Homo sapiens: one gene and its partners. The protein of the gene in region 2 purifies or fractionates together with the protein of the main gene of each other region. This does not show direct contact. Each region holds a gene or a part of one and is shown on either strand. Other genes may lie near its edges. The genes, in order: OGFR, PRKCE and IL32.

The links.
Region 1: the proteins of PRKCE (region 2) and OGFR purify together in Homo sapiens (affinity purification with mass spectrometry; 2 studies listed by BioGRID and IntAct, with this or other methods). This does not show direct contact.
Region 3: the proteins of PRKCE (region 2) and IL32 purify together in Homo sapiens (affinity purification with western blotting; 2 studies listed by BioGRID). This does not show direct contact.

Annotation. Positions count from the first base shown.
Region 1 is NC_000020.11:62,799,658-62,810,075, forward strand, and holds the start of OGFR (opioid growth factor receptor), read left to right. Parts: upstream 1-5,177; 5' UTR 5,178-5,202; coding exon 5,203-5,373; intron 5,374-5,810; exon of another isoform or gene 5,811-5,930; intron 5,931-7,879; coding exon 7,880-7,948; intron 7,949-8,589; coding exon 8,590-8,668; intron 8,669-9,927; coding exon 9,928-10,006; intron 10,007-10,418. UniProt on the Homo sapiens protein: Receptor for opioid growth factor (OGF), also known as Met-enkephalin. Seems to be involved in growth regulation.
Region 2 is NC_000002.12:46,003,537-46,013,728, reverse strand, and holds part of PRKCE (protein kinase C epsilon type), read right to left. Parts: intron 9,817-10,192; exon of another isoform or gene 9,314-9,816; intron 9,188-9,313; coding exon 9,091-9,187; intron 6,268-9,090; coding exon 6,068-6,267; intron 3,414-6,067; coding exon of another isoform or gene 3,396-3,413; exon of another isoform or gene 3,386-3,395; coding exon 3,212-3,385; intron 3,046-3,211; coding exon of another isoform or gene 2,992-3,045; exon of another isoform or gene 1-2,991.
Region 3 is NC_000016.10:3,059,880-3,070,962, reverse strand, and holds IL32 (interleukin-32), read right to left. Parts: upstream 5,324-11,083; 5' UTR 5,276-5,323; exon of another isoform or gene 5,180-5,275; 5' UTR 5,152-5,179; coding exon 5,137-5,151; intron 3,587-5,136; coding exon 3,548-3,586; coding exon of another isoform or gene 3,410-3,547; coding exon 3,350-3,409; intron 2,980-3,349; coding exon 2,953-2,979; intron 2,784-2,952; coding exon 2,724-2,783; intron 1,974-2,723; coding exon 1,608-1,973; 3' UTR 1,433-1,607; downstream 1-1,432.

The DNA of each region.
Region 1 (10,418 bases), on a different chromosome or scaffold from region 2:
TGGCGGCAGAGAAGCGGGCGAGGCACTGTGGTCGCTGAGGGGGTTGGCTGGGTCTGAGTGCCACCCCCCAGGCCACAGTGATACCATCCCAGTGCCATGAGCCCACACTGCCCGCCCTCAGGCTCTCAGGTGAACGTGGCCGTCAGCGGGGAAACGTGTGTGTCAGTTGGACCATGTGGGACCCTGATGGACCTGAAAGACCAGGATCGGTCCAGCTCAGATATTGAGGGCTCTGAAGCCTAGTTCTGTCTTCTCTGGAGCAGCTGTGGCTTCCCCGTGGCTGCTTGGTGACATGGATTAGCGCTACGTGGGCTGCAGCATTTGGGATCCAGGCTACCTAGAGGGGCATCGGGCCAGGGAAAACCTCGGATTAGCAAGCAATAAAAACATGACCTCACTCTTCCTCAAAGGAGCCCCTGGTCTTCCCTGTGTGACTCAGTTCTTTCCATCTGTTTGTCCCGCTGCAAGCCTCTTTCTGCGCTGACTGTGACATTGGAACGTGGCCTTCCTGTCACCCCCTCCGTGCCACGCACTGAAGGCCACCCCCACCCACCTGGGAAACTAAGAACTGGATATTTTGCCTCATTCACTTGTACTGTAACAATGTATATAATTTGGTTGGTATTTCACTATTTAATTTTTAAGAAGCCTATTTTACTAGTGTTTTATATGAACAAAGTACTGCAGAAGTTAAACCTGTGTTGTATTTTTTCTGAGATGTTTTGCTTTAAGAGATACTTTTTGCTCAGTTTTTATATGCCAGATACAGAGAATTTGTAGCGGTTATTTTTGTATGATCTAGTAACTTGCAAACAGACCAAATGGATGAGAGGCGGGGACCGTGCAGCTGTCGGCTGATGAGGAGGCGGCCGCCCCAGTGCTGATGGAGATGCCACTTTCGTGTGACTGCGAACATTAAAGCACAAAAAAATCCAACCTGGAGTTGTGTGATTTTGATACCAAAGTAAGTTCACTTTTCCTCCAAAAGGAAGTTTTTATTTTTCCAAGATTTATAACTAAAGCATACACTTAGATGACTTATTAACATTCACTTGATACAACATATAAACAAAATAGTAACAGATTCTGAGTGGTTATTTTGTGGACTGTGACAAGCACTTCAAATACAAAATGTTAGGAGGGCAAAACGGTGCGGGCCCTCGTAGGTCAGGCAGGCACCAGTGGGCTCCTTCCTGCTGAAAGCTGCGGCTGTGAGATGAGACCGCTGGCTGGGTCACAGAGTGAAATCCAGCGTTCCGTGTGCGGACGAGGAGACAAGCTGTCCTGGCCAGCCATCGCACCCCAATGTCTTCAGCTTGACGTTGCTTCTCTGCCAGTGGAGCCTCCTCCACCACCTGGGAACATCCCTGGCCATCTGTCCCTGAAGTCCTCCTCACCATGACGCAGATCACAAGGCACCCACTAAAGGGGCAAAGCCAGGAATCCCGTGCCATGTGATCGCCCCGTGTGGCACCTGCCACTCGTCTGCACCAAACGCACTGCCAGTTCTGGGGAAGAACAGCCCAGGGAAGCTGCTGGTCTACGGCCTGCCTGAGCTGTATTCCAAGGGTAGAGCAGCTGCCTGGGGGGACCCTGTGGGTCCCTTTTCTATAGAGCCGGGACAAATCCACAGCCCTGCAGTAACAGCCTGCCACAAAGAGCAGGCATCTGGAGGGCCCCACACACATAGACCAAAGGACTGAGCCCGCCTGGCATTCCTCCACTCACAGCACAAATACTCAGCCCTGCAGCCAGGGAAGGGTGGGGTCTCCCTTTGCTGCCCAAGTGTGCCCCCTTGCCCGTCTGATCTCTCCTGTTAGGTCAGCCTCATTCAGGGCTTTGTGCCAGGTCCTGTCCTGGAGTCTCAGTCCGGGACAGCAGCCTGGCTCTTAGGCAGTCCAGAAGCAGCAGGGCAAAGGGGGGCAAATACTAACACGGGGTGTCACGGGATGGCCAGGAGGAGTCCTGCTCGCCACCCAGGCTCACTGTCCTAAACCTCCATCTGAAACCGCATCTCGGGTGACCTCAGATTGTGCTAGGAAAGCCTAGTTAATAAATCTGCCTCATCTCGATTACTGTAACATTTTGCTGCACTTCCAGGAGAAAGCTAGAGCCCACAGGTTAAGCCCACTGGGCAGGTGAGCAGCGTGCCCCCGCCCCGGGCCTCCCTTCTGGACCAGAGGCTGACTGGTTGAAGTCAGGAGCCACGCAGCCCTTATGGACTCACAGGGGCTTCTGGGCTTCCCTGTGGGGAGGCCCAGTTCATGCTCTGCTGGCAGGTGGGATGACCAGGTCAAATTCACAAGTGTCAGGGCAAGGGCGATGTGGCCTCAAGTCCTGGTAAGCGCTGTACTTACCCTCTCCTGGCCCCAGGGGTCCTGTCTGTAACCTGGGGGCTTTATGTAATGCACACTCCACCATGTCATGTAGAAGGTGCCGACTGAACCCCAATCTGAAAAGGAAAACAGCTGGCATGAGGCTGGCCCGTGCACGGACGCTCACGCGCCTGCTGCTGTAGAGGCGAGACGTGGTACACTGTGCACTCGGGACAAGATCTGAACGGGTCAGAAGCCGCCGCTGATGTTGAGCCTGGAAGCCTCAGCAGCGGCTCTACACCTGGAACACGCAGGGCCCAAGAGCACCTGCTGCCGCAGAGACATTTTCTCTATGGCTGGCAGCTGCGGGTGGGGACTCAGTGAAGGCTGAGAGTGGGAGTGATCTGAACTCCCCCGCCTGCCCACCCAGGGCGACCCAGGGGTGACTGGGAAAGGCAATTGGGCTCCACTGCTCCCCAAATAGCAGCGAATAAATACTGAGCGGCAGGGCACTGGCAGCGAGGCTCCCTGCTTGGCTGGTTGATTGAGGACAGGGCATGCTTGGGCCAAATCAGGAGGCTGCCACTGGTCTTGCCTGGAGAAGATATGAAGGCTGTAATCCAAGCTCCCAGCCACACAAAATTCTGCTGGGCTCCTTAGCTGTGAGCATTGCCTGCTCCAGGCACATCACCCACTGCGTGTGCAGAGACCATTGCCCTTCCTGGGTGCCTGGGAGCTGTGTGTGTGTGTGTGTGTGTGTGTGTGTGTGTGTGTGTGTGTGTGTGAGTATGTGACAGAGAAAGAGAGCCCCTTTCCCCAGCCTCAACAGCAAACCCTTCTGGAATGCCGTGCCACACGGGGCGTCACTGGACTGCAGAGGATGCTCTGAAGAAGCAATTCTGTTGCACAGTCCCCTGCAGCAGCTCCTGCACTTCTTGGATTAGCACGCCCCCGAGATGAGCTCTGCACACACACACACACACACACAACACAAAAGCAACTAAAGAAGCAATTTGGTGTGGTGATATTTGTAAAACAGAAGTTGGGCAATGTCTCTAATACTCTTTTTAGGGAAGTGGTTCTATAGTCCTGCCGACAGTAGGTAGCAGCGGGAATGCTGTCCCCGTAGAACAATGTTGTCAGCACCCAGTATGCTTGTCTTTCTGTTTTCTGGGGCAGTGGAGGGGGCAGCCTGACCACCCAAGTCTCAGATCACCCAAACCCTATACAACCACCCAGCACCCATCAATGTCCCCATCAGAGCCCCCCGACTCCACCTCACAGTCTATTCTGATGCTGCAACCAGATCCCACCTGTAAATCATCTAACAAGGAGGTCAGGCAGCTCACTCAGGCTCCCTGGGAAACCTGCCCTGGCCACTGCACTAAGTTGATTTACAGAAATGTCCAGCGCCCCAGAACTTCGGGGCATCACCACTGTCGTTTCAAGAAAGTGTGATGCATGTCCACAGGTTCCAGCCAGGTGAGACTGCACCTGCTAACAGTGGTCAACAGGTCAGCAAAGATTAGGGCCCAGCACCCAGAGGGTCCTTAACCTGTACTTGTGGCCAGGATTGGAAGACTTGCGTTCACGGCTGTCCCTGGCACACAGTACAAGGAATGTCACCAGTTCCCAGGCCCAGCAGGCCTGCAGGGCTAGGAGATGGCAGTGTCCCCTAGGGGCTGGGCTGGGGCCTTCTCCACCTTTCCACCACCATCATTACAGGGACAACTCTGCGAGGAGCTATCCTCATGGCCAAGTCCAAAATCCAGATTTAGTTTTACCTAAATGTTTTGAAATGAATTGGTATAGCAGTTACAGAAGAAATTTATCTGGAGTGGCCACTCCTGATTTTTATTTCAAGAGGTCACCAACCTTGCCATGTATCTGCCAGCAGATGTCAAAGGTGGATGAGCAAGGGACCCGCGGTGCTGGGAAATGGCAGGTGAAAGTGACTTTGTGTTGCCCCATATCTGCCAGTGCTTAGAGAGAGGGCCCTGAGGAGGCGCTGAACTGGCATCAGCTGTGTTGAACAGTCCCCAGGGTGACCCTCCCGGTGGCCCAGGCTTCGTGTGGTCCTCTCCCCTAAGTGCCTTCTTACAACTGAGAGATGGCGGCAAAGGTGAAGGAAGCCACGGCTTGCCCATGTCATCCTGGTTATATAAGACTCGGCACCCTAGAGAGAAAGACTCCCCTGGTGGCTTTGAAAAGAAAACGGCCGTGCTTTGCACTGCCTATGGAGGGACAGGGGTCCGCCAGCAGCTTCCAGGAGCTGAGTAAGGCCCCCAGCCCGCAGCAGAAGGACAGAGACCCCTACACACCCAGCTTAGGGAGAGAGGCCCCTGTGGACACGTGGCCCCTCCGGGGGTTATCCTCCAAGGGACATTCTTCTGATGGGGACATCCTCTGGGGGGATTTCTCTTGGGGGACAGAAATATTCCTGGAAGAGGGGATTCTCTGCGGGGCAGGCATCCTCCGGGGAGAGAATCCTGCTGGGAGGACATCGTCGGGAAGACATCCTTCCTAGGTACCCGGCTCATCTTCCGGGGAGACCGTCCTCTGGGGGGCGGGCAGGCTTTGGGGACATTTTCGGGAGGGAGGATCTCCTAGGGCGGGCATCCTTGCGAGACGGGGTGGGGCGAATCCTCCCGGGTGGGCATCGTGGGGTGGGGGTGGGCGTTCCGCGAGGGGCATCCTCCCGGGCGGACGTTGGGGGATTCTCGGGGGAGGGAGGGGCGCGGGGCGGGCGTCCCGGGGAGGGAGGGGCGTTGCGCGCGGACGCGGGCGGGGCCTGGGCCGCTCCGTCCCCTCCCCCCGCCCGCCCCCCGCGCTTCCTCTGCTTTCGGTTTCGCTTCCGCCTCCAGCGCGAGCCCCGCCGCCGCCGAGCATGGACGACCCCGACTGCGACTCCACCTGGGAGGAGGACGAGGAGGATGCGGAGGACGCGGAGGACGAGGACTGCGAGGACGGCGAGGCCGCCGGCGCGAGGGACGCGGACGCAGGGGACGAGGACGAGGAGTCGGAGGAGCCGCGGGCGGCGCGGCCCAGCTCGTTCCAGGTGCGGCCCCGCGGCGCGGAAGAGGCCTGGGGTCCCCGGCGCCCCCCGCCCGGCTGCGTGGACGGGAGACCCCCCCATCCCGGGCGGAGACACCTGGAGCCTCCTGGAGCTCCCGCAGCCCCGGGGACCCCCCCCCAGACCGGCCGACCCCCAGCCCCAGGGCCCGGCGGGGAAGTGCGGGGGCCGCGCGTGGGTGACAGCGGAGCTGAGCCTCCCGGGCCCCATCGTGTGTGGGCGCCGTTCCCCCCGGGGGTGCCTCGGGCGCGTCCCGCCCCCAGCCGCCGTGGCCGCCCCTGATGGAACCCCTCCCGCCTCGGGCCCGCGCCTCGGCCTCCTGGCGGCCCCTGCGCAGGCCCCGCGGCCTGGGGCTGGGGCTGGGGCTGGGGCTGGGGCTGGGGCCCGGGCCGGGTCTGGCCTGGGAGGCTTCGCGTCTGCACCTGCGGGAGCCCGGGGCGGGCCGACGGGGCCTCCGCTTGTTACTTTTGTTACCGCCGGGCGCCTGTCATCGCCGGGGTTACTTTTGTTGCCGCGCTGGGAACGCCACACTGTCGCAGTCCGGCCCCCCTGTCGGGGAGCTGGGATTGATCTGGGAGCGGCCTTCCAGCTGAGCTGCCCGGGTTGCGGAGGGCCGGGAAGTGCATGGAACTCGACGGCTCCGCATGGATTCTCCCCTTGGCACCCAGCACTGTTTGCGTTTGCGCCTGGCCATGGTGGAGCGGGCAGTGAGAGAGCACGGAGGGGCTCCGCCCTGTCGCCGGGAGGGCAGCGGCCAGGCAGGCTGGGCAGGGGGGTGGGGTCTGGCTCTGTCCCACAGGACGGTGTGACCCCTGGGTGGGCTCTTGACGGGCTTTCCTCACTGGAGTTCCTCAGGCCGCTCTCCTGAAGCGGTGCTCAGAGGCCCTGACCATCCTGCCAGGCGCCCGTGACCCCTGACCTCTTCCCTCTGCCTCCTGCTGTGGCTTCTGTCCACAAGCCCCTCCCCTTCCCCTTTGGACCCCTCAGGCCTCCCCAGCTGCCTGCGCTGGACCCTGGCGGGGCTGTTTCACTTTTTCCTGGGCAGTGTCATGTATGCACCTGTGGGCTGACTGTGTGGCCACATCCAGTCAGGACCCAGCCTCCAGAACTGACCCAGGGAGGCTCCCGCTGGCCCCAGGAAGGAGAAGTAGAAACTGATGATCAGGCGGGGCGAGAGAACCACACCAGCGGCCCTGTTGAGAAATCAGGCCGAGAGGTCGGTGGCGGTGGCTCAGGCCTGTAATCCCAGCACTTTCGGAGGCCTGGGCAGTCGGATCACCAGAGGTCAGGAGTCCAAGATTAGCCTGGCCAACATGGTGAAACTGTTGTCTCTACTAAAAATACAACATTAGCCAGGCGTGATGGGCACCTGTAATCCCAGTTCCTCCAGAGATTGAAGCAGGAGAATCGCTTAAACCTGGGAGGTGGAGGTTGCAGTGAGTGGAGATTGCCTGGGAGGTGGAGGTTGCAGTGAGTGGAGATTGCCTGGGAGGTGGAGATTGCATGAAGCTCCATCTCGAGGGGAAAAAAATAAGAAAGAAAAATCAGGCAGAGAGGCAACGCCAGGTCCCAGCTGGAGCTCAGCGGGGAGCCAGGGGATACAGTGGCTGACCGGGCCTCCTAACCCCCCTTCTAGCACTCCCCCAGGATCCTGGGTCCCAATTGTTGCCCTGGACAAATACGCCCATTCCTGCCCTACCCACCGAGTGAGGCTCAGCCCCAGGCCCCCCACCCTCATCACAAGGTCAGGGCTGTGTCCCACCATCCTCATCACTAGGTACTTCCGGCCCTTTGCTCAGCCCCATGATGCTTGGCCTGCAGAGATGGGGGCTGAAGGGCTTGGGGCATCAAGGGGACCTGACATCTTGCTGAGAAGCCATCACTAGACAGGGCTGGAGGCTGGAGACTCAGGGCCTGCCCTCACCGTGGCCAGTGAGGCGTGGGGTTGGGCAGGGAAGGGGCATTCATTCATTAGACCCTGCCAGAAGCACCTGGGTCCCCTTCTGGGGCTACAGGTGGTGAGGCCACTGCCCCCAAGAACACAGCCTGGTGACTTTAGTGTACAAAGCAGGGGGAGTCTCCAGGGGCACAGAACAGAGGCTAAAGCCAGGGTGGAGGTGGCCAGCAGGCCTAGGAGGAGGAGAGGGTCAGGGCCACACCCCAGGGGAGGTGCATGTCAGCCAGGGGCCACCCTAAGGTGGAAGCCAGGAGTCCCAAAGGGGCCTAGAGAAGGAGCAGCCCCCCACCTGGCTACCGCAGCCCTCTCTGGTTCTGTGCAGGGTATTGGGATGCGTTACTGAGGCCCAAATCTGCCCCACTGGGAACCCCCAAAAAAGAGCCAGGGCAGGAGAATGAGAGGGAGGAGCCATGAAACCCCCGCCCTTTAAAGACAGCTCTGTGGCAGCTGGCCCAGGCCCTGCAGCCCTCACCACGTTGGGACTCACTTGGGGGTCTCCCATGGGGGTCCTAATCCCATCTCTTTTCTTCCCAGTCCAGAATGACAGGGTCCAGAAACTGGCGAGCCACGAGGGACATGTGTAGGTATCGGCACAACTATCCGGTACGTACCTGCCCCTGCCCCGGGACACAGAACCCTCCCGCCAGCTGCTCTTCTCAGGCAGAATGTCCCAGGTTCTACTGGAAGGCTGGCCTGGCTTGCTGTGCCAGGGCCACAGTTCTGGGCAGGACCCTGCCTGGGGCACAGCCTGGTATAGATTCAGAGCCCTGCCCTTCCCCTCTCGCGGGAGACCGGGGGCATCCCCCTACTTTTCTGAGCTTCAGCACACCGTCGCCTTGCAAACATGGCCATAGTGCCAGCCTCGTGATGCACACGTGTGGGGTCCGTGATACCGCCCACACAGCACCCCACCCCCATGCCAGCCCTGTCTCCTGCAGGTTGTCCTCAGCCATTACCCTCCACACCCCTGAATCACGGAAACCCCTGTGCTGCCTTCAGGGTGCTGAGGAGGGGACCTGCCAGGCCTGGCCTGGCTGGCGAAATGGGGAAGGGGGGTCCCTGGGGCTTGGAGGCAGCTGCTGTCCTCTGAATGGCCCCCACCTGCAGAGTGAGGAGCCAGGCGGGCTCTTGGGGTATTGGGCCAGCCTGGAGGTTTGCAGATGCGCCTCCCCGAAAGACACGGAGGGCCCCAGGGCAGCTTGTGTCTGATGGATCCCTGCTGTCCCCTTTCTCTGGCTCTTCAGGATCTGGTGGAACGAGACTGCAATGGGGACACGCCAAACCTGAGTTTCTACAGAAATGAGATCCGCTTCCTGCCCAACGGTAGGTGCCTCACAACCACTGGCAGCCGGCGCTTCCATCCTTGCCTGGCAGGGGTGGTCCACTGGGCCCTGGTTTGGGATGTACCCGGCGATTACCAGGGCCACGGCTTTCAAATAGCCCCACAGTGCCCCCTGGAGGCGGCCAGAGGGACTCCAGGATCCCCGGCTTGGGATCTCCGCAGTGGTGTTTGGGTCGGGGTGGGCTATCTCTGTAAAGAGCCAGAGACTGAATATCTGCAGCTTTTCAGGCCACACAGTCTCTATCAAAACTACTGAACTCCTGCACGACCTCATGAAAGCCACATGTAAACCAACGAGCTAAGGATAGCTTTTATATTTTTAAATGGTTGCAAAAAATTAAAGTAGAGGCCGGGCCTGGTGGCTCACGCTTGTAATCCCAGCACTTTGGGAGGCCAAGGCGGGTGGATCACAAAGTCATGAGTTCGAGACCAGCCTGGCCAATATGGTGAAACCCTGTCTCTACTAAAAATACAAAAAAAATTAGCCAGGTGTGGTAGCGTGCGCCTGTAGTCCCAGCTACTCAGGAGGCTGAGGCAGGAGAATCGCTTGAACTTGGGAGGTGGAGGTTGCAGTGAGCCGAGATCTCGCCACTGCCCTCCAGCCTGGGCAACAGAATGAGACTCTGTCTCAAAAAAAAAAAAAAAAAAAAAAAAAAAAAGAACAGTGTTCTATTACTTTGATATTATAAGAAATTAAAATTTCAGTGTCAATAAAGCTTCACGGGCACGTGCCCACACCTGTTTATGCACGTGCCGGGCTGCAACGTGAAACAGAGACTGGGTGGCTGCACAAAACACTGTCAGGCCCCCATCTCAGGAGACTGTGCCTGCCACATCATGGGACTGGGTTCAGCTGGGGGCTGTGTTTGAGGACAGATTTCTGTGGCTGACGGGCCACGCTTTTGCAGGAGGCACTGAGGCCCCCTCCTGTACAGACAGGTCCTGGTCGAGGACCAGTGGTTCCCCCAGAGGGACCTTCCGGGCTCTCAGTGGGGTTTGCCGCCAGCCAGCAACAAGGGTCCAGGTCACAGATGGCAGCAGGGCAAGGGCTGTGCATCGGAGGAGGGATGGGCAGCCCCACTGAGCCTAGCACCCTGAAGAGCCTCAGGAGATGAGGGCGAGGAATAGCTTGGGGAAGCTGCTGGCAGCACTCTCTCCTTATGTCCCCCACCCACACCCCGTCCTCCTGAGCACGGGCAGGGTGGCTGCCACAGCTGACTTGTCCCCATGGGGCTCCCAGGCTGTTTCATTGAGGACATTCTTCAGAACTGGACGGACAACTATGACCTCCTTGAGGACAATCACTCCTACATCCAGTGGTGAGTTGGGGAGGATGGGGGGATGGGGGGTTGGCGAGGCCACAGGGGGAGGGCCCTCCCAGGCAGGAGCCCTCCCGACGCTGCTTCCTGGCACGGACTGAGCACTCCCTGCCCTTCCTGGAAGCTGGTGTCCACATTACACGGATGGACATTACTGGACATGCAAGGGCCGCTGAGGGAAGGCTCAGGTCTGTCCCCAATCTGTGGGCTCTTGGTGACCAGGGAGACAGGAAGGGCTGCACACAAGCTCCCTGAAACAGGAGAGGGGGCAGGCACTGCCTGCCAGAGGGGCAGCCTTAGTGCCAGGAGGCCTCAGTGAGCCTCAAGGGGCGGCCCCCGTCTCGGACTCAGCTGGGGCAGGGTCCTGGCGTAGTGCTGGGATGAGACTTGTGGCAGGCGTCTTGGGGACCCA
Region 2 (10,192 bases):
TATTGCTGTTCTGTATGTCATAATTAAACAAGCATGAAAGAAATCTTAATAGGATTGCAATCGGGTCTTTGTGTTCCTGAATGTTGTATCAGAGTCTTAGTGGAAACCAGGTTTAAGGTGGCTCAGAGGAACTGTCCTTTGTTTTCAGGAAAAGTGAAACTCAATCAAGACTGAATTCTGTGGCTACCAAACCCAGCTGCTATTCCCAAATCCTGTCCAAATCCTCTCTACCTTTCAAAGCCTGGCTTGATCGCACTTCTTCCACTAGATCGTAGGGAAGACCCCCTCCCCTGAGTCTTCTTGGTTTGAATACTCCCATCTAGAACATAACTATTCAATGCTGTTTGCTACTCCCTCTTAGCTTGTGGAATTTAGAATAACCTCCCAATCTATTATCAGTGAATCCTTCCACGTGAGAACTGTCTTCCTTTGGTTAATAACCCCAGCATCTACCTCAGAGTCAGGTGAATAATAGCTACTCTTTAAAACTATGATAAACTGTTGGTTTGTCATAGGGAAAGTCACATTTTTAAAAAGTTAAGTTGAAGGTTTATAAGCTGATTCTTCATCAGGTTCCTTTCATAAGTAAGTTAAGATCCTTCTATGAGGTTAAAATATGATTCAGTTTAGAAAAATTCAGTGAATATGCATCTGTTACATAAAGCTAAGTATTCTATGAAACTGAGGTGGCATGAGAGAGTTGGTGCAAAGCTGCTCCTGTGACTGTGGCTGCCTGACAGTGGCCTGAGAAAAGATAGTAAATATCTGAACTACAGAGGAAGCTCCTTCTCTGCCCATCCTCACCCTACAGCCATCCATGACAACATCCATGTTAGCTTGATCACTGTTCTGCCATAAAAGAAATCCCTGGTGTTATTCAACACCATTTTGTGCTCCAAAAGCTGCCATATGATGAGGAATCCTTAGCCTTGTTATTCTACAACGCACAAAGGAGAACACTGCTGACATTGAAGACATCCATTCCCACTCCCTCACTCATTCACCAAGCTGACCTTCAACGTGGCTTCCCATGATCCACCACGTACAGGGGCTCCATAGAGCCCTCACAACTAAACTGGACCCCTCCTAGGATGTTGGGCTTCTTGATAATGGTGTAAAGAAAACTTGCCAGAGTGGCTCCCTGCCTGGAAAGCCACCTCAGATAGTGAGAGGGAGGGCTACCTGCTGGGGACAGGGGGAAGTGGGAGGGTTCCTCCAACAGAAGGGACCCTGTGCTGGATCAGGCACAAGAAACTAGCAATGTGAATCAGAGCAAGGCCCCACTACCTTGGGAGTCCCTGAGACTAGATGAGATGCCAGGTCTGACTCTGCCAAGATGGAGTGCCTATGAGCAAAATAGTTTTACTTCTCTGAAACCCAATTTTCTCACTGGTACCAAAAGGAAAGAAAAGAAAAAAAAAAAGGAAAAGAAAAGAAAGGAAAAGAGAGAGAGATAAAGAAAGATAAGGTGACTTTGAAAAAATCTTCCAAGTCTTTGATTCTGTCCGTGGGTACCTGTCAAGTGTGAGGCCCTGTGATAGGCACCATGGAAAATACAAAATATGATACATTTCTCATGAATCTAAAATTATGCTCTAGTGGAAAAAAGAAGAAAGTTAACTCCATCACTGAGTCTCTATTATTCAGGATTCTGTACACACACAAACCCATAAATATTAGGCATTACACAACACACATGAAAAATGAGAAGAGTTAGTAATTCTTATACTTGTGCAGAAAAAGGGATAGATTCCTATTAAATAGTGGTCTCTGAGGAAAGTTTCGTAGACAAAGAAATATGTGTCCATCTTGAAAGATAAGCAGAATGATTTCCAGATTTTCAGACGATATTTCTTATTCTCCTGAGAGATCAGAAGGATAGGAAAAATTCCACTGGATCAGGGTTCCTCAGTATGGAATGGGCATTGTGTGTGTGTGGGTGCATGTGTATGTGTGTGTAAGAGAGAGATGGGGGACCCTGGGATCAAATAAGTTCGGAAAAGTAGATTAAACAAAGGTAATTTTGTTTTCATTGCAGGTCTCCTCAAGGATGCTAATAAACATACGTGTGTTGAGACTAAGAGAGGTTACGTTTGCAGTGACTCCAACTATGGGTCACAGAGTCCTTTCTTCTTACAGCTGCTCAAGTGATTGGGGTTCTGAGAAATCCTCTCTGGGAAACGGTGTACCAAAGATAATGTAAACTCCATGAGGTCAGGGACTAGTCTAGTTCACCACTGTATCTCCAGCACCTGGCATGGCATCAGATACACGGGAAGGATATAATGAAATATAATAAAAGAAAAGTTTGCCAAATGACTCAATGAATAACTATTGAATTTTAAGTGGAAAAACTGGCATTCAAAATGACATGGAGATGAGAATACACCCAGAAGCAAGGTATCACCTCTCCATGATGTCACCCTCAGGGTCTGGGTTCCACATAAGCCACAGCTAGGAGTTTCAGGTGATGTCTGTCTTTGCCTTCTCAAGAAGCAAAATACTACAAACATCCATAATGATCCTAAAAGACTTTAACTCCTCCCAACCCCTCAAAAAGGATAACAAAATTAGAGCTTCATGAAGAACATTGCTGTTTCTTTACTAAAAACAGGTAACAAATTAGTTAATAATACTCGAGTCAGACTCTACCATGGAGTTATGGATTATCTTTGTTTCTTTACTGCCACCTTCTGGTTCCCAGACACCTATGCGGTAAATTAAAAATGCTGCCTTATATTTGTGTTTCACTATGAAATTTTAAGCATTTGTTCACATCCTTTATTTCAGATGACATTACACAGATTAGAAGAGATTAAGGTGGCCTTTACTCTTTTTCATATGACATGAAAATAACTTAGAAGTTAAGTGATTTGATTAGTGATAGAAAGTTAGGAGCAGAGCAAGGACTAACCACACTTGTTGGTTTTTCCAATGAGCAAACAGTGAGTTTAGCCATTTGGCTTTGTCCAACTCTGGCTGCAAAGAATTCTACAGCTCTCTCATCCCTTCACAAGCACAACCTTGAATGGAAAATCCTGTGCCCTAAAAAAGAAGATGCTGTTCAAATACATCCTGATCTTTTCAAGGGTAAAACCCATCCCACTTTACAAAGTCTTTGAGAGAACAATGTAGAGGGTCTAAAATTGGTATTTTATCTGATAGTCAAGATGCCCCAACATGGCAGCCAGCCAGCTTCTTCCTAACATACCTTGGTCTGGAAGCAGCAGTAGAGTTGGGTAAGGTACGGGTGTTTCCGTGCCAGAGCCAAAATCCTCTTCTCTGTCATTGTGCAGTCCACGTCATCATCCTGAAGGATGACGTCCTTCTTTAAGACCTTCACAGCATATACTTCATCTTTGCCCTTGAGTTCTGCCAACATGACCTGCAATCAATCAATTGCCTCCATCAATCTATGCATGTATGGAATAAAAAGAAGAAGTGTAAGCTAATACCAAATACTTCAAAAACGAATTCTGTTTTTTCTTTAATTTTAAATATTATAACAAGCCTGGTGTGGTGGCATGCACCCAAGATACTTGGGAGGCTGAGGTAGAAGGATCATTTGAGCCCAGGAGTTACAGATCAGCATGGGCAACATAGCAAGACCCCCTCTCAAGATGTATACATAATGTTTAAGAAAACTTCCTATTCTACAATTACTACCGTTCTACAGTTACTACATTCTAATAGTTACTACAATTTATTTATTTTTGATCTCTGGCACAATGCCCAGGCATAGAAAAGAGAAGTTCAATGCACATCTGTTGAATGGTTATTCATATGTTTATATGTGTTTGTCATACTTACAATTACAGTACACCAACTATTTTTACAGTTACAGTACAGTAAAATAATGTAACTATTTTTAACTGAACATTATCTTACAGACATTCTCCATATGGTCTCCATTATTATCACGGTTGCTTATACTCAATTCAAGTAAATATAATTTATTTAACCATTTCCCTCAAATTAGGCACTTCAGTTATATCTAATCATTAAGTATTATATAAGTTGCATTGAGTATTTTTGTACACAATTAAAACAATTTCTCTTGGATTACATTTGTAAGATGGAAACCCTCATAAGTAGATTAAAGGGTGAAGCATTTTGCACATTTCCTATTTTCAGAAAGGATGTGTGATACAATGTGCCACTAGCAATGTAGAAGTGTTGGAGTTTCATGGTGACTTACCAATACTGAGTAGTTTCACTTAAAAAGTATTTTTGCTCACTTAATAGGTGTGAAATGTTACCTTGATGCTATTTTTACTTAAAATGAAACTTTAAAATTAACTGTTTTCTGACTGTATTTCTTTTCGTGTAAATTATTCACGTCTCCTTTGTCTAATTATGCTGCTATCATATTAATTTCTTACAAATTTATACACATGTGATATATAAAGATACTAACCCTTTACTTTCTGTAAAAGGTTTTCTAAGCCTGTTTTATAATTTTCTGTTATTTTATTCTATTGAAAAGAATCATGTATCTTTATGTAGTTGAATCTGTCCTTGTTTGCCTTTATGGTTTCTTTTATAACTCTGAAGCTGGAAACGTGATTCCTTTTCAAGAGAGCTAATTAACAGTTCTATGTTCTTAAAGTGTTCCTATCATTTGATATTTTTGCACTCATTTACCTACAAACGTCACAAGCCTTTCTCTTCTTAAATAAGTAACTCCTAAGTACAGTATTCCAATGTAAGTCATCAAAGCTAAAAAGCAGCCATCAGAAACTTAATGAGGGAATTCATGATGTTAACCTGAAGACTTTTTGTCGCCCGCGTATTTTACAGACTCTTTAAAACTGGCTCAAACTTTGGCTGTGATTTTTCCTAAGAGATAACCTAAATGCTCCAAAGTCATCTAAGTTCCCATTCTGCCTACACTATATGAAAACCTAGAATCTCGGAGTCTTGCTCAAAATTAGACCACATCCTGTTCAGGTCCCAGAGTTATGCCTAACCAGAGGACCTCTTTTTATTTAGTCAGTCTCTAAAGAATGTAATTGCTTCAGCTTTTGCCATTTAAGTAAACCCCAGTTACCTTCCCACCAGAGTGGTATCAGGGTGAGATAGGGGCAGGTGAGACGGCTGGGAACCAGGTGGGATGGGCCAGCTGACTGACCTACAGGCTGCTGCTTTCAAGAGTCCAGGACATGCCAGGGCATGTGATCCCAGGAGCTTCCTGGTCCCCAGAGCAGGACCTCCCAGAACTTCTCAGGGGGTCCCAGAAAGGTGACTCCCAGGCTTAGCTCTGAACAGAACCAGGGAACAATCAGAGATCTCAGGTGAAATGCAAACAGCTTCCTCTGCTCCCTGCCCCTTCATCTTCTTTCTAAATGAACAGGAGTTAATTTTTCCATCTCACCCAGCCATCGGAATGGTGGCTGATCACCTTTAGTGCTTTATTGAGCATACTAAAGGCCACACCCCACACCACTGTGTTCATCTCAGTGGGAACAGGATATGGAGAATGGCACCAAGGGCAGAGGACCCTGATCCGAGGCATGAGATGATTATTCCCATTTTCTTGCCACGTGTAAAGGATAAACAGAACATTTATTACATGCCAGAAAGATCAGTTAAATAACATTTACCTTCCAAAGTAATGCATGCTAAATTTGCTTTAAACCCTAGGTTTGCTGAGGGCAGAGATTCATTCTCAAAGTCTTCATAACAAATTAAAAACAGAATTTCAGCTGATCTCTGAAGGAGGGAAGACATGTATTGACACTACTATTGATTTGGAACACTGAGCATTTAAAACTTTCCAAAGTGCTTTCTCATCTACCATCTCACTTGATTCCTGTCCCCATTCAACAAATGAGAAAAATTGAATTCCAAAGAGATTAAATCACTACTTGAAAGTCTCATATAGCCAATTAATAGCAGAACCAGCGCTCCTATCTACTTGGCCTCAGGTCATTTGCACTTACAAAAAAGGAAAGAAAACCTAACGAGATCAGGCTGAAAGGTTCCTCTCTCAATCTTAGATCAAACAGACGAAACAATGCTAAGGAGTAGAACAAAACCAGCAGTTCCACCCGTGTGTGCCACAGACCTTGCCAAAGCTGCCTTTGCCCAACACCTTGATGAAGTTGAACTCATCCAGGCCCAGGCGCTTGGCCTGGCCTTGCCGGACTTCGCCATTCTCACCGGGGCTCATCAGCTGGCCATCAGGAGACGATGCTGCCCGGTGCTCCTCTCCTCGGTTGTCAAATGACAAGGCTTTCCGAATGTTGTTCTCAAGTTCTTTTATTTCTAGGGCCAAGGGGAACAAGAAATTGCATTAGTGCATACCTCTTAAGCCTGTTACATTAGGACTCAACACTCAGACTTTCCCCTGTAAGCTCTCAGTCCTCTTTCTGGTTCTTCACAACAGATCCAGTGTGACATCCCTTTGTATGTTCCTTCATCTGTTCACCACACTCTTATTGGCACCTAATGCGCAGCAGAGCTTAGGTATGCAAAGAGGAGGAGGACACAGTCCCTTCCCTGCCCTTGTCAACTCCAGATTACACTGGACCTGGCTGTCTCTCTGAAAGCCCCCTTTGGCTAGTAGCCTATTCCACTGTTCTAGGTAAAGCACACAAATCTGGGCCCTCTCTGGAATTCTGCAGAGTCACAGGTATCCTTCAAGTTTCCTCTGAAGATGAGAACAACGAATCAAGAACTGTCATCACAGTAATCACTGGTGATATAATTATTTCAACAACTGAGCCATCAGAACGGTGGCTGATCACTGAAGGTAGAAACCTTCATACCTTCTAAAAACCTTTACTCAGCCTTGTTGCCGGGTTTCTTCTAAATACCCATCTTACACAAGGTTATCTAACAAAATGAGCAATGGGCTTATTATTAACAAAAGAATTGCTTTCCCAAGTGACATGTTGCAAACTTATCTCCAATGGGGCGGGAATTTCTCAGTACAATTTCTCAACTACGAGACAGTCTTGTGCCCCGCTCTAGAGCTTATGACCTGAATTACCTGGGGGAGATAATGCTGGATGATCCTCTGACCTTTTCTATTTGAAGAAGCTTTACTGTTAGCAACTCATTCATCAAGACACGCACTCTTCTGTGTGGAAATGGGCATCTTGAGCAAAATCCGATTTTAAATGATGCTTGTGAATAACTTGGATTATGGAAGGGGAACATAGCCTATTAACCCTTGGGAATGAGAATTAGGCATGAGTGACAGAAAGAGATCTTCAGCTTCTTTTCAGAAGGACAGAGTCCCATAAGGGCTTACTCAAGGAATCCGGAGATCTTTCCTAGATCTGGAGTTTGGCTCCTCTGAGACGTGTTGGGGAGGGTGAAGACGGGGAAAGCTGCTGAGTCTGCAGACACTCCCCTTGCCAGTTCAGCAGTTATCCACCTATCACTTAGCTTGACTAAATAACTTTTAATCTCACAATAGAGCTAAAAGCCTCAGTTATTAAATGAATTTTGGAAGGCAAAACATAGTTGTTTGGGGACAGCAAAGCTTGAAGAAAAGGTTTTTCTATGTGTCTTTACAAGGGAAGAAAAAGAAACTATGTCTTATTTCTGTTCTGTAATAATGTCGCTCAGAGGGACATCTGTGCTAACATCACTACTGGGAAATCCTGGCGTCTGTGTCAAGTGGGATGAACAGAGGCCCTGGGGCCGCTGTATCCTGCCACTGTATCCATCCAATGGCAGAGCTCAGAGCCAGAGAGCATGCAGGGCAGGAGCCAGGCCTACAAACCCTGGTCTCTGAACTCTTACCTGGGGTCTCTTTTCTATATGACCCTGTCTCCCTGAAGCTCCCAAAGGGGATCTCAGCCTCAGAAAGGAACACGTGAAAACCCCCAAACTGGTCTGGGAAAATAGCTACAAGTTCTGCAGCCCCAGAGTACATCAGGCTACTTATGAATGCTTCAAATCTCATTTGGAATGAGGTAGAGTATAAAGACACAGAAAGTTAATTGGAGTAGCACGAAGAGGGACTGAGACCAATTATTCTGTGGCCTCAGGGCTGGTGCATGACCCCCGAAGCTCTTTTATTTACTCCTGGGTAAGAAGGTCTGGGTCATGGTGGTGACCTCCAAGGAAGGTTTGATGGCAGGGTTTCTGAGAGTGTGTCCCTCAGCCAGCATGGGTACAGTCTTGCCCTTACCACTGACTTATCTCCAAACCTTGGGACAGAACTTTTCCACACTCTGACCTCCCACTTCCCACTCACTAACCTGGGGGACAGTAATGAAGCACCAACATAGAGTGGGTATGGGCATAAAATTAGGATAATGAATACAAAAAGGGATATAGAAAAACCAAGGCACCATTGTCAGGCTGTGATGGTTATTCCTCTTCTGCAGATGCATATGTCCCTTACCAGGCATATCTGATAATGGTCACGAGAGCAGGAGGTTTTGCAAGTGTAAGTCCCTCCTCAGCCTCATCATTCTCGGATGGCTGCAGAATTATTATTGTGCAAATTATGTCTGCAGAACTTATTGTCTGAAGCACAGTCGGACAGAAGGAGATATCTGGAGCTGTAGAGGGGAAACAGGCCTAGGACTGGCCTCCTTCCCACTTCTTTTCTCAGTCTCTCCTCTAGCTTCATCTTTCTATCCTCACCCACCCAAAGGCCAGGATAGAAGACATCCTCCCTCACCCAGCCCCAAACTCAAGCTGATCTCAGGTTTTGGGTATGATGATGGGGGAGGGAGTGTCAAACTCAACTCAAGGGAGTGGTGTTGACAGGTCTAGGGCCAGGCAAGAGCTTTAAGAGAGGGAGCTGTACCCTTCTCTCTGCAGTACACTTGGAACCAGGGACAGAGGCAAGGGAAAACAGATAACCATAACATCATACACTCGCTCTCCTCTTACCCTGGCCTGGAAGGAAATTAAGGCAGATATGGCCATGGAGTGCCCAGCCCTCAAGAAGGTCTTGGAGAATGAAAGAACTGTTAAATCAACAGGCAACGGGTGTGTGAAAACCCACCAGGGCTGCTAGCTATTTCAGCTAACAAGCTCACTCTTGGTTAAAGAGGCCTCAGAGCTCCTTGGTCCATCCAATGGCAGAACTCAGAGGTCAGGAAGCAAATCTGAGGGTCTCACCCTGGTCACAAGGGGAGGTGGGTGCTGACTTGGATCGATCTTCCTCAGATGGTGAGCTTCCAGAAGCAGGCTGCGGGGACTCGGCACCAGCAATGAGCTAGAGAGGAGAGAAAGCAGGGACAGAGGCATCAGAAGGGAGGGTTGAGAGTTTTCTGATGTCAAAAGCATCAAGATGCCGTATAAGAGCCATGAGAGTTCCCAGAGCAGCAGGAATTCAGTAGATCTCTGTCCTCTTGCAGCCATCGCCAAAGTAGCCAAAATGAAGTTCGATCCCTCTGTGACGTCTGACCAGAGCAAGAACCACAAAAGGAATTTCAGTGCACCTTCCCTACATTCACAGAAGGATGATGTCTTCCCCTCATTCCAAAGAGCTGAGACAGAGGTACAATGTTTGATCCAACCCCATCCAAAAGGATGAAGTAGTTCGGGTTGTGCGAGGACACCATAAAGGTTAGCAAGCTGGAAAAGTAGTCCAGGTTTACAGGAAGAAATACATCATCTACATTGGACGGGTACAGCAGGAAAAGGCTAATGTTCAACTATCCACGTGGGTATCTACCCCAGCAAGGTGGTTATCACCAGGCTAAAGCTGGACAAAGACTGCAAAGAGATCTTTGAACGGAAAGCCACATCTCACCAAGTAGGAAAAGAGAAGGGCAAATGCAAGGAAAAAACAATTGAGAGGATTCAGGAATAAATCTTACATATAACTTTCATTAAAAACTGCTAAAATAAAAAAAAAAGAGAGTGTTCCTAATACCCAGTGTTACTTGCTGAATTGATATTCTGAAAGCACAGACTCAAGGTTTCATTTGCCAATTTAAGGGAAGAAAACAAGAGACTTCAGTTTGTTCACTTTTAATTCTATCCAAATACAATTGACCTTTCTAAGCAAAGCTCACCCCATGTCTTCCATAACGTCCCCCTCCACCTATCCAAGCAATGCAAGTTATCTCATGCAAAGCAATGTGACACTTGTCTCTAACACCTGTTTGGCACTTATTTATATCTTATTCAGCTTTTTATAGTTAGTATCTTTATGTGTATATTGTGAGGTGTTCTCCACTTAAGTAGACTATAGGATACTTAAAGGTAAGACTCT
Region 3 (11,083 bases), on a different chromosome or scaffold from region 2:
TAGATTTCAGGGGATGGATGGAAATGCCTGGATGACCACGCACAGGTTGTCATGGAGAACGGCTACTGGGGCAATGCAGAGAGGAAATGTGGGGTTGGAGCCCCCACACAGACTCTCTACTGGGGCACTGCCTAGTGGAGCTGTGAGAAGACCACTCTCCTCCAGACCCCAGAATGGTAGATCCACCAAGCGCTTGCTCTGTGTGCCTGGAAAAGCCGCAGGCACTCAGCACCAGCCCATGAAAGCAGCTGCGGGGGCTGCACCCTGCAGAGCCACAGGGGCGGAGCTGCCCCAGGCCCTGGGAACCCACCCCTTGCATCAGTGAGCCCTGGACATGAGACATGGAGCCAAAGAGATCGCTTGGGAGCTTTAAGATTTAATGACTGCCCTGGTGGATTTGGGTCTTGCCTGAGGCCTGTAGCCCCCTTTTTTGGCCAATTTCTCCAATTTGGAAAGGGAACATTTACCCAATGCCTGTACCCACAATGTGTCTTGGAAGTAACTAACTTGCTTTTGAATTTACAGGCTTATAGGCAGAAGAGACTTGCCTTGTCTCAGGTGAGACTTTGGATTGGCCTTTTGGGTTGATGTTGGAATGAGTTTAGACTTTGGGGGACTGTTGGGAAGGCATGATTGAGTTTTGAAATGTGAGAAGGACATGAGGTTTGGGAGGGTCCAGGGGCAGAATGAGATGATTTTCTCTGTGTCCTTACCCCAATCATCTCAAACTGTAATCCCCACATGTCGAGGGAGGGGCCGGGCTGGAGATGATTGCATCATGGGGGCGGTTTCCCCCATGCGCTTCTGGTGTAAGTGAGTGAGTTCTCACAAGATCTGGTGGGTTAAAAGTGTTTGGCAGCCGGGTGTGGTGGCTCATGCCTGTAATCCCAGCACTTTGGGAGGCCGAGGTGGGCGGATCACCTGAGGTCAGGAGTTCAAGACCAGCCTGGCCAACATGGTGAAGCCGCATCTGTACTAAAAATACAAAATTAGCCTGGTATGGTGGCGCATGCCTGTAACCCCAGCTACTCAGCAGGCTGAGGCAGGAGAATCACTTGAACCAGAGAGACAGAGGTTGCAGTGAGCCGAGATCACCCCATTGCACTCCAGCCTGGGCGACAAGAGCGAAACTCCATCTCAAATAAAAAAAACACACAAACACGCGGACAAAAGTGTTTGGTAGTTCCCCCCACCCTGCTTCTCCTGCTGCCATGTAGGACGTGCCTTGCTTCTCTTCCGCCTTCCCCCATGATTGTAAGCTTCCTCAGGCTTCCCCAGCCATGTGGAACTGTGAGTCAGTTAAACTTCTTTTCTTTATACATCACCCAGTCTCAGGCATTCTTTATAGCTGTGTGAAAACGGACTAATACGGCAACAGATCAGCCTTGCCCTGGGAAACCCACCTCCGCGATCATGGTATCTCCCCTGCCAGGGAAGTATAAGCAGGTTTTATTAAGATGCCAGGGCGACAGCACCAGGTCAGAGCTGCGGCAGGAACGCCAGGCAGGGGGACTGAGTGTGCGGGAGAGGGCGGGGCACAGGACAGCTGAGGGAGGGGTCAGGGTGGGTGCGCGGTGACGGGGAGGGCAAAGGTGGTGTCAGTATCTTCATTTTGAGGATTGGGGTTCAGAGCACTTCTGGGGTGTCAGCTCCTCCTTGTCCCCCCGTGGGGCTCCGTAGGACTGGAAAGAGGACATGAAGAGCTCTGACAGAGAGCAGCAGAAACTCTGGAACTGTTTCCAGAGGGCCTGCACTGCATGGACCAGGGCCACCACCTTCTCCTTCACCCAGGCCAGAACCCCGTGCCACCAGGTCTGCAGCCGCTGCAGCATGGCCTGGAACCATCTCATGACCTTGTCACAAAAGCTCTCCCCAGGCTCCTCGGTTGCGGGATCCTCAACATCCGGGACAGGGGATCTGTTGCCTCGGCACCGTAATCCATCTCTTTCTTTTTCAAGTAGAGGAGTGAGCTCCTGTGGAATGGGAGCACCATTCAGGGTCTGTAGGTGGGGGTGTCAGCCCCAGGCCCTGGCCACACCCAGGCCTCTCAGCCTTTTCCTGACCCTGGGAGACGGAGGCCCACAGGTGTTGGTTTCCCAACCACAGCCCCGTGGGCAAGAGGGACTTTTCCCAGAGTCCCCCTCCTCTGCATTCACCTCCATGGCAGTGACAGGATGGGTGTGTCTGCTTGGTCACCAGGTCAGGGCCCTCATCGTGCCTTGAGGGCTGTGCCACTGTGTGAGGAGTGAGGCCATGGGCAGGTCCCAGCTAGGCTGTCACTCCCAGCCCTCCACCCCAAGCTCAGGGGCTGGGCACACCCTGCCCACACCACATCAAGACAGGGCAGGGGTTGGCTGGGCCCGGTGGCTCATGCCTGTAATCTCAGCACTTTGGGAGGCCAAGGCAGACGGAACACAAGGTTAGGAGTTCAAGACCAGCCTGGCAAACATGGTGAAACCTGGTCTCTACTAAAAACACACACAAAAAAAATCAGCCTGGAGTGGTGGCGGGTGCCTGTAGTCCCAACTACTTGTCAGGCTGAGGCAGGAGAATCACTTAAACCCGAGATTTGGAGGTTGCAGTGAGCCAAGATCATGCCACTGCACTCCAGCCTGGGCGACAGAGCGAGACTCTGTCTCAAATAAACAAAAAGAAAGAAAGAAAGAAAAGACAGGGCAGAGGTGAAGGAAGGCAAGGTGCCCAGATGGGTGTGTCATACTCACTGGGTGCTGCTCCTCATAATAAGCCGCCACTGTCTCCAGGTAGCCCTCTTTGAAGTCGTCCTGGGGAGAGGAGGGCACAGGGGGTTCATGCTGCTCCTGCCTGCCCCCTTCCCACTGTGGCCCCCACTGGTCCAGGTGATTCCCAAGGGGACCCGGGGCCCAGACCCAGTGTCCTGTGGAGCCTAAGACCCAGGGACTAAGCTTGGTGGAGGGGGAGGCCACGGCTCACCTCCAGCTCTGCCAGGCTCGACATCACCTGTTAGGAACAAAGCACTCGGTTCCAGGCCCAAGCCTCCTCTGCACCCCACATCAGTCAGTCCTCAAGCCCAGTGAGTCCTCAGCTCCCACACACCCCGAACTGGGCCCAGCCAGGGGCCCGGGCCACGTCTGGCACCCCTGTTGTTTCCTCAAGGAGCCCTGGGGCTTGGATGCCTCCCTCAGTCTCCCCGGGCGTCCAGATCCCCCACCCGCCCACTCACTGCCACCCAGGTGCAAGCATTTGCCCACGGTAAGGGGTGAGGGAGCCTGTGGGTCCCTCTTCATCCTTCTCACCCTGAGCCCCACACAGGGTGGAGTGCCTGGGGGCGGGGACATGTGACCTGGTGCCTGAGGGGAAATCCACCCACCTGTCCACGTCCTGATTCTGCATTTTGCATTTTATCATAAAATCTTTCTATGGCCTGGTGCTGTGAAGAGAGGCAGAGTTGGCACCAAAGGGCCGGATCCTTGTCCCTCCAGGGTCCCAGGTGTCCCACAGTGTCCTCAGTGTCACACGCTGAGACCCAGGCCCCCAACCCCTGAGCAGAAGTAGGGAGGAGCATTACCATTCGGGCCTTCAGCTTCTTCATGTCATCAGAGAGGACCTGCGGAAATAACGGTGACACTCAGTCTCCATGTGTCACCTTAACCTTTCCTCCAGGATAATTTATACACACACACACACACACACACACACACACACACACACAGAGACACATGGCAGAGGTACAGGATAAGAGGAGACAGCAGTCCCAGGAGCCCCTCACAGCCTGGAAAGACCGGCCAGGGCTGTCCTCGAAACGACTCAGAAAGCGCTTCTCTCAGGAGCCGGCTCAGCTGGGCAGGCCCAAGAGCAGGGCCAGCATGGGCCTAGGTGACCCCTCCTCACAAGAGCAGGGCCTGCGTGGGCCTAGGTGACCCCTCCTCACAAGAGCAGGGCCTGCGTGGGCCTAGGTGACCCCTCCTCACAAGAGCAGGGCCTGCGTGGGCCTAGGTGACCCCTCCTCACAAGAGCAGGGCCTGCGTGGGCCTAGGTGACCCCTCCTCACAAGAGCAGGGCCTGCGTGGGCCGGGGTGTCCTCCCTGCACACACACACCCCCCCATGTACACACACGGGAGGATGGACACTGTCCTGGAGCAGGCTGGCTCAGCTGGGTTTCCCACAACCACTATGGTCCCAGGTGAGAGTTGGCCAAGGAAAAAATGTTTAGGGACATGACAATTGAGAAGGTAACAGCAGCCATTCCTCTCTGATGAGCTGATTAATATTTGGGGTGCCAGGTAGGTCCACCCTACAACCTGCCACTCTTCCCGACTGCCAACATGCAGACCCACAGGTCCCGGGCCATTCCTGCCTGCAGACACGTGGCTGCATCCACAGAGGCCAGAGGCACCCCACAGAATCCCCGCTGAGCCCCCACGTCAAGGGCCTAGTCTCGGGGGTGACATGCCTGGTTTCCCCCACTATAGAGTGGTGACAGTCACCCACAGAGTGCGCAGGGCCTGGGGACATATTCTGGGCAGGGCAGCTGTCTGCACACTTTCAGGCAGCGATGGTCCCATCCCGCTAGCCTGATTTCCCAGGAACCAGGGTGAAAGCAGCACCGTGCCGACATGCGGGAGCCATGTGTCCTCCGGGTCACTGTCCTGAACCTGAGCCAGGCCACATCATGGAAACCCCTATTGTCACAGGCCGAAGAGCTCCCTGGAGGGTGTGGTGGGCCTAGCATTTGCGGTGGGGCAGTGGTAGAGGATGGGAGGTCGGAGGGAACCCAGGAAAGGAGGAAGAGACACCAGGACCCACACAGGCCTTGCTCTTGGGCCCACCCAGCTGAGCCGGCCTCTGAGAGAAGCATTCTCCGAGTCGTTTCCAGCAGAGCCCTGCCCCACCCCTGCCCCGGGCTTTCCGGGCTGTGAAGGGCTCCTGGGACAGGTGCTCCCTCTCATCCACACCCCTGCCGTTCTCCAGCGCCCCCGACACATATGACCTCCAGCGCCTCCACTGACACTCTCACCCCATCACTATCCTCCTGCCGCTGGGTGCCCCTGACTGAGCCCTGACACACAGGCACCTCGGGAAATACTGAGGGCACCCGCACCCTTACGGTCTGTTTTCAGACATGCCCACAAAAGCACACGCAGCCTCTCACTCACCTTCGGGAAGCACATGGCGGCCAAAAGTTCAAGGAGCCAAGGCCTGCTGGCGAGGAACAGGTGTGAGGAAAAGAAAGTGTCTCAGAGAAGCACCCTCCTCCCCAGAGGGTCCTCACCTTCGGGGACCCCAACTCCCCACCTGAGATGACCCAGCTCCACTGAGACAGTCACCTTCTGCACGCAGTCTTCCTGGCACAAATACTCAGCTGGTTTTATGGGGAAAGTGGGGGGTAGTGGGCGGAGCCTCTCTCAGGGCAGGAGGCCTTGCTGAGTGCGTGAAAAACAGACAGAGACAGAGACAGAGACAGAGACAGACAGAGATGGAGACTTACCCGAGAGAGACAGAGGTCTGGGGTCCCTGGGAGGAATGAGGGTCCGTCCCTGGCTGGGCCCCTGCTCCCTCTGAGCTGGGGTGGGAGTCTCTGAGCCCAGGAATGGGCTGCTTTCCCCACCCCACCAGCCTGAGAGTGGGGAGGGGCAGAGGGAAAGTCCAGACTCGGGACAGCTGGCTGGGGAAACTCCCTGAGTACAGGAAGGTGACGTCAGCCAAGTGGGATCCAAGGACAAAGGAATTTGGACCCTGTCCTTGCATGAGGTGTGCCCCGGCTCCAGAGGCCAGAGAAACTTCTGGATCAGAAGGAGGCAGGAACTGCCGGACCTAAGAGGGGCGCCGTGAGGGCAGGGGCCTGTGCACGTTGGAGGGGTGGCTAGTGGTGATGTAGATCTACCTGTGGGACAAGATAGGACCCTCTGCAGGGTGGAAGGCATCCTGCCGGCTGTCTGAGCTTGGCTGACCAGGTCCTTCTGACCCTTCTGGGCCAAGGCAAGGCCATCTGGGGCCGAAGGTCACTGGTCTCAGCAATCTTGGGGCTCCCCTACGGGCTCTTCTAGCTCCACGGGTTCTGACCCTCCAGCCTGGCTGGGCCTCCCACCTCCTCCTCACGGCCCCCAGCCCCCTTCCCCCAGCTGAGCACAACCACGCCCTTGCCTTTGGGATGGTTTCCTGGGGCCAAACTAAGGAAGTACCACGACAAGGGGCCCTAAGTCGAAGACGTCTCTTCCCTCACGATCTGCAGGCTGGAGGTCCAAGGTCAATGTGGGCAGCGTGGGGTCCTTCTGAGGGCCCGGAGCTGGGATTCTGTTCAGGTTTCTCCTGCCCTTGTAGATGGCCATCTTCATCTTCATCACGTTCTGCCTGGGTGTGACTGTCCCCCTTTCCCCTTTCCAAAGGACACCAGTCATATTGAAATAGGGTCCACCCTAGGCCGGGCGCAGTGGGTCACGCCTGTAATCCCAACACTTTGGGAGGCCGAGGCGGGCAGATCACCTAAGGTCAGGAGTTCTAGACCAGCCTGGCCAACATGGTGAAACCTTGTCTCTACTAAAAATACAAAAATTAGCCTTGCGTGGTGGCCGGCACCTGTATTCCCAGCTACTCGGGAGGCTGAGGCAGGAGAATCACTTGAACCCGGGAGGCGAATGTTGCAGTGAGCTGAGATGGTGCCACTGCACTCCAGTCTGGGGGACAACAATGAAAATTCCCCTCGGAAAAAAAAAAAAAAGAAGTAGGATCCACCCCAGTGACCTCATTGTACCTTAAGTACCTCCATAAAGACCCTGTTTCCAAATAAGGGCATATTCTGAGGTCCTGGGGCTTAGGAATTCAGCATGGATGCAATGTATCCCATTATATTCTCAAAGGGGACTCGGAGAGACAGAACCTATAAAACACGCTCCATGGAGAAATCTTCCCTTGGGTGAAGTAGACAACGGTTGTCACCTGCCTGCCACTTAGGAGTCCATTCCACTGTGCGCAACCGCCTTTCCACATACAGGATGTCCAGATCTTTCCCTGAGTATCCTCTGAATTGTAGTGGGAGACAGAAGGAAGCCACTCCTGCACCAGCTAAAAGTCATGCTTTAGGCTTCAGCTCCAACCCTAGCCCCTCATGACTCTCAAAGGCCACCATCTGAAGACATCTTGGGATCCACCCAGACTGTATGTACCCTGTTTTTATAGCTTTATGGTGATGCAATTTACAGGCAATGCAATTCACTCATTGAGCTGTACAATTCAAAGCACAGAACTGTGCAGCTATCACCACAACCCATTTTAGAACATTTTTATCACCTCTAAGAGAAATTCTGCCCTTCTGAGACATCACTGCCAGTCCTCATTTCCCTGGATAACCACTCATCTACTTTTTCTTTTTCTTTTTTTTTCTTAGAGTCTCGCTCTGTTGTCTAGGCTGAAGGGCAGTGGCACGATCTCGGCTCACTGCAACCTCTGCCTCCTGGGTTCAAGCAATTCTCCTGACTCAGCCTCCCGAGTAGCTGGGATTACAGGCACGTGCCACCACACCCAGCTAATTTTTGTATTTTTAGTAGAGACGGGGTTTCACCATGTTGATGAAGGAGTCTCGAACTCCTGACCTCAAGTGATCTGCCCGCCTTGGCCTCCCAAAGTGCTGGGATTACAGGCATGAGCCACTGTGTCTGGCCTCATCTACTTTCTCTCTCAATGGATGCCTCTCTCCCAGACATTTCCTATAAGTAGAATTATACACTAGGTGATCTTCTGTGTCTAGCTTCTTTCACTGAACATGCTATTCTTGAGGTTCATCCGTGTTGTAACACGCATTATTCCTTCATTCCTTTTTCTGGCTGAATAATATTCTACTGTGTGGATAGACCACATTTGGTTTCTCCATTCACCCCTCGAAGGACATTTGGGTTCTTTCCACTTTTTGGCTAATTCCGAATAATGCTGCTATGAACATTCACGTACAAGTTTCTGTGCAGACGTATGTTTTCACTTCATATGTATGAAGCAGAAGAATAGCTGGGTTACATGGTAAATGTGTTTTTATCCTTTTGAGGAACAGCCAGACTATTTTTCAAAATGTCTGTCATTTTACATTCCCAGCAGCAGTGTGCGAGGGTTCCCGTGTCTCTACAACCTCAGCAATACTTGTTATTCTCTGTGTCTTTTCAATTCCAGCCATCCCAATGGGCTGAAATGGTATCACGTGACAATTTTTTTTTTTTTTTTTTTTGAGGTGGAGTCTTGTTCTGCCACTCAGCCTGGCCTAATTTCTGTATTTTTAGGAGAGATGGGATTTCACCATGTTGGCCAAGGAGTCTCGAACTCCTGACCTCAAGTGATCTGCCCGCCTTGGCCTCCCAAAATGCTGAGATTACTGGCATGAGCCACTGCGTCTGGGCTTATCTACTTTCTCTCTCAATGGATGCATCTCTCCCAGAGATTTCTTATAAGTAGAATTATACACTACGTGATCTTCTGTGTCTAGCTTCTTTCACGGAACATGCTGTTCTTGAGGTTCATCTGTGTTGTAACACGGATCAGTCCTTCATTCCTTCTTCTGGCTGAATGATATTCTACTGTGTGGATAGACCACATTTGGTTTCTCCATTCACCCCTCAAAGGAAGTTGGGGTTCTTTCCCCTTTTTTGCTATTCTGAATAACGCTGCTGTGAACATTCACGCAAAAGTTTCTGTGCAGACTTATGTTTTCACTTCTCTTGGATACGTATGAAGGAGAAGAATAGCTGGGTTACATGGCAAATGTGTTTTTATCCTTCTGAGGAACAGCCAGACTATGTTTCAAATTGTCTGTCATTTTACATTCCCAGCAGCAGTGCCCGGGGGTTCCTGTTTCTCCACATCCCCAGATACATTTGTTATGCTCTGTGTCTTTTTAATTCTAGCCATCTTAGTGCGCTGAAATGGTACCATGTGACAATTTTTGTGTTTCTTTTTTTTTTTTATTTGATGCAATCTCGCTTGGTCTCCCAGGCTGGTGTGCAGAGGCACGATCTCGGCTCACTGCAACCTCCAACTTCTGGGTTCAAGCGATTTTCCTGCCTCAGCCTCTCAAGTAGCTGGGATTACAGGCATGCGCCACCACGCCTGGCTAATTTTTGTATTTTTAGTAGAGACAGGGTTTCACCATGTTGGCCAGTTGGTCTAAAACTCTCAAACTCAAGTGACATCTGCCTCTCAAACGTCTGCATCAGCCTCCCGAAATGCGGGATTACAGGCATAAGCAACCGTGCCCAGCCAATTTTATTTTTATTTTTATTTTTTTGAGACACACCTGTTGCCCAGGGTGGAGTGCAGTGGCGTGATCATGGCTCATTGTTGCCAAGACTTCCCGGCTTCAGGTGATTCTCTCCTCTTCGCCTTCCAAGTAGCTGGGAATACAGACACGGGTTGCCACCATGCCCGGCTAATTTTTTGATTATTTTGTAGAGACAAGGTCTCACTATGTTGCCCAGGCTGGTCTTGAAACCCTGCGATCAAGCCATCCTCCCACTTTGGCCTCCCAAACTATTCGGATTATAGGCGTGAGCCACTGTGCCCAGCCTCTTTCCAACTTTCTGGATGATGTCCTTTGAAGCACAAAAGTTTTACATTTTGATTATGAGACCATGCCATTTTTAAACGATACCACTTAAAAAATAAAAATAATCACTTTGACATGACATTTTTGTGTAGCAGTCATAAAATTTTAAAGGCTCTGGAAGTCTACATGGAGCCATGAGGCAGTCTCAATTCCACAGTGGCCGTCCGTCCTCCGGGTGCCCCATAACCAACTTTTCGATTCCTCTCTACTTCGTCCTCCCACTCTTCTTTCTTCTTATTATTATTATTTTTATTTTTATTTTTGAGACGGAGTCTCGCTCTTTTGGCCAGGCTGGAGTGCAATCGTGAGATCTTGGCTCACTGCAACCTCCCTCTCCCGGGTTCAAGTGATTATCCTGTCCCAGCCTCCTTAGCAGCTGGGATAACAGACATGCACCACCATGCCTGGCTAATTTTTTTTCTATTTTTAGTGGAGATGGGATTTCAGTGTTGGCCAGGCTGGTCTCAAATTCCTGACCTCAAATGATCCGTCTGCCTGGGCCTCGCAAAATGCTGGGATTAAGGCATGAGCCACCACGCCCGGGCCCACTCTTCCTTCTTAGATTCCCCATCAACCATGGATTCCTTCTGCGAAGCAGGGAGATTCAGGTCAGTCCAGTTCCTGCCACCACACTTCTCCCCAGGTCCATCAATGCTCAGAAGAATGGAAGGGCTTTTTGTACATTCGTTTTTATTGTCCTGAGTGGGATGAATAAGTTTCTAATATACAAATTTCCCCCTCCTCATACATGGAAAAGAAACTGACAGAGGCCCAAATCGTTTCCTGGCAGCCCAGAATTCCCAGGTAACTGACCAAAGTCTCCTGCCTTCTGTCCTCATGCTGATCTGTTTGTATGAGCAACTGGGGCAACCCCTCGCATGGTTGCTGGGACAGCCGCCCACAGCCTCAGCTCCAGGAAGCACTAGGGGGTCACTGAGGCTGGACAGCAACTTAGGAAGTGGCCCCTAAGTGACTCTACCCATGGGGTTCAGGCCATCGGTGTGGCCTGAACATATTGGTCCTGGGGTGGAGGAACACTGCAGAGCCACAGAAATGCCACGAAACAGCCAGCTACTGCCCCCCACAATCCCCGCGACTAGTTAAAATGCAGATTCCTGACCCCACCCTGAGTGAGGATTCAGGGTGAGTGTGGGATCTGCAAACTTAAATTTCCCAGTGATTCTGATGTGGGATAGTCTAGAAGAATAGTTCCAGAGGCAATCATTTAGATCCTAAAACTGTGGGGAGTGGGGACAGGGTGAACGAGGTGCCCCCAGGTTCCACCCACCCCTCACTCTAGAGCTAAGGCCTCCCAGGAGGGAGTGCTGAGGAGGCAATGACCAGGCCTGAGCCAGGGTTCGGTCCCTGTCTTTCCACCAGCGTTGAGTTGATGGGAGTCAAGCTGTTCTCTCCAGGGTGCAAGCAGGGAAGGGGTTCTTGGGGATAGAAGGGTTCCCCATTGAATGGAAGGCAGTTCTGGGCCCAGGGAGGTGCCCAAGTTGGGTGGCCTGGGGAGGAGG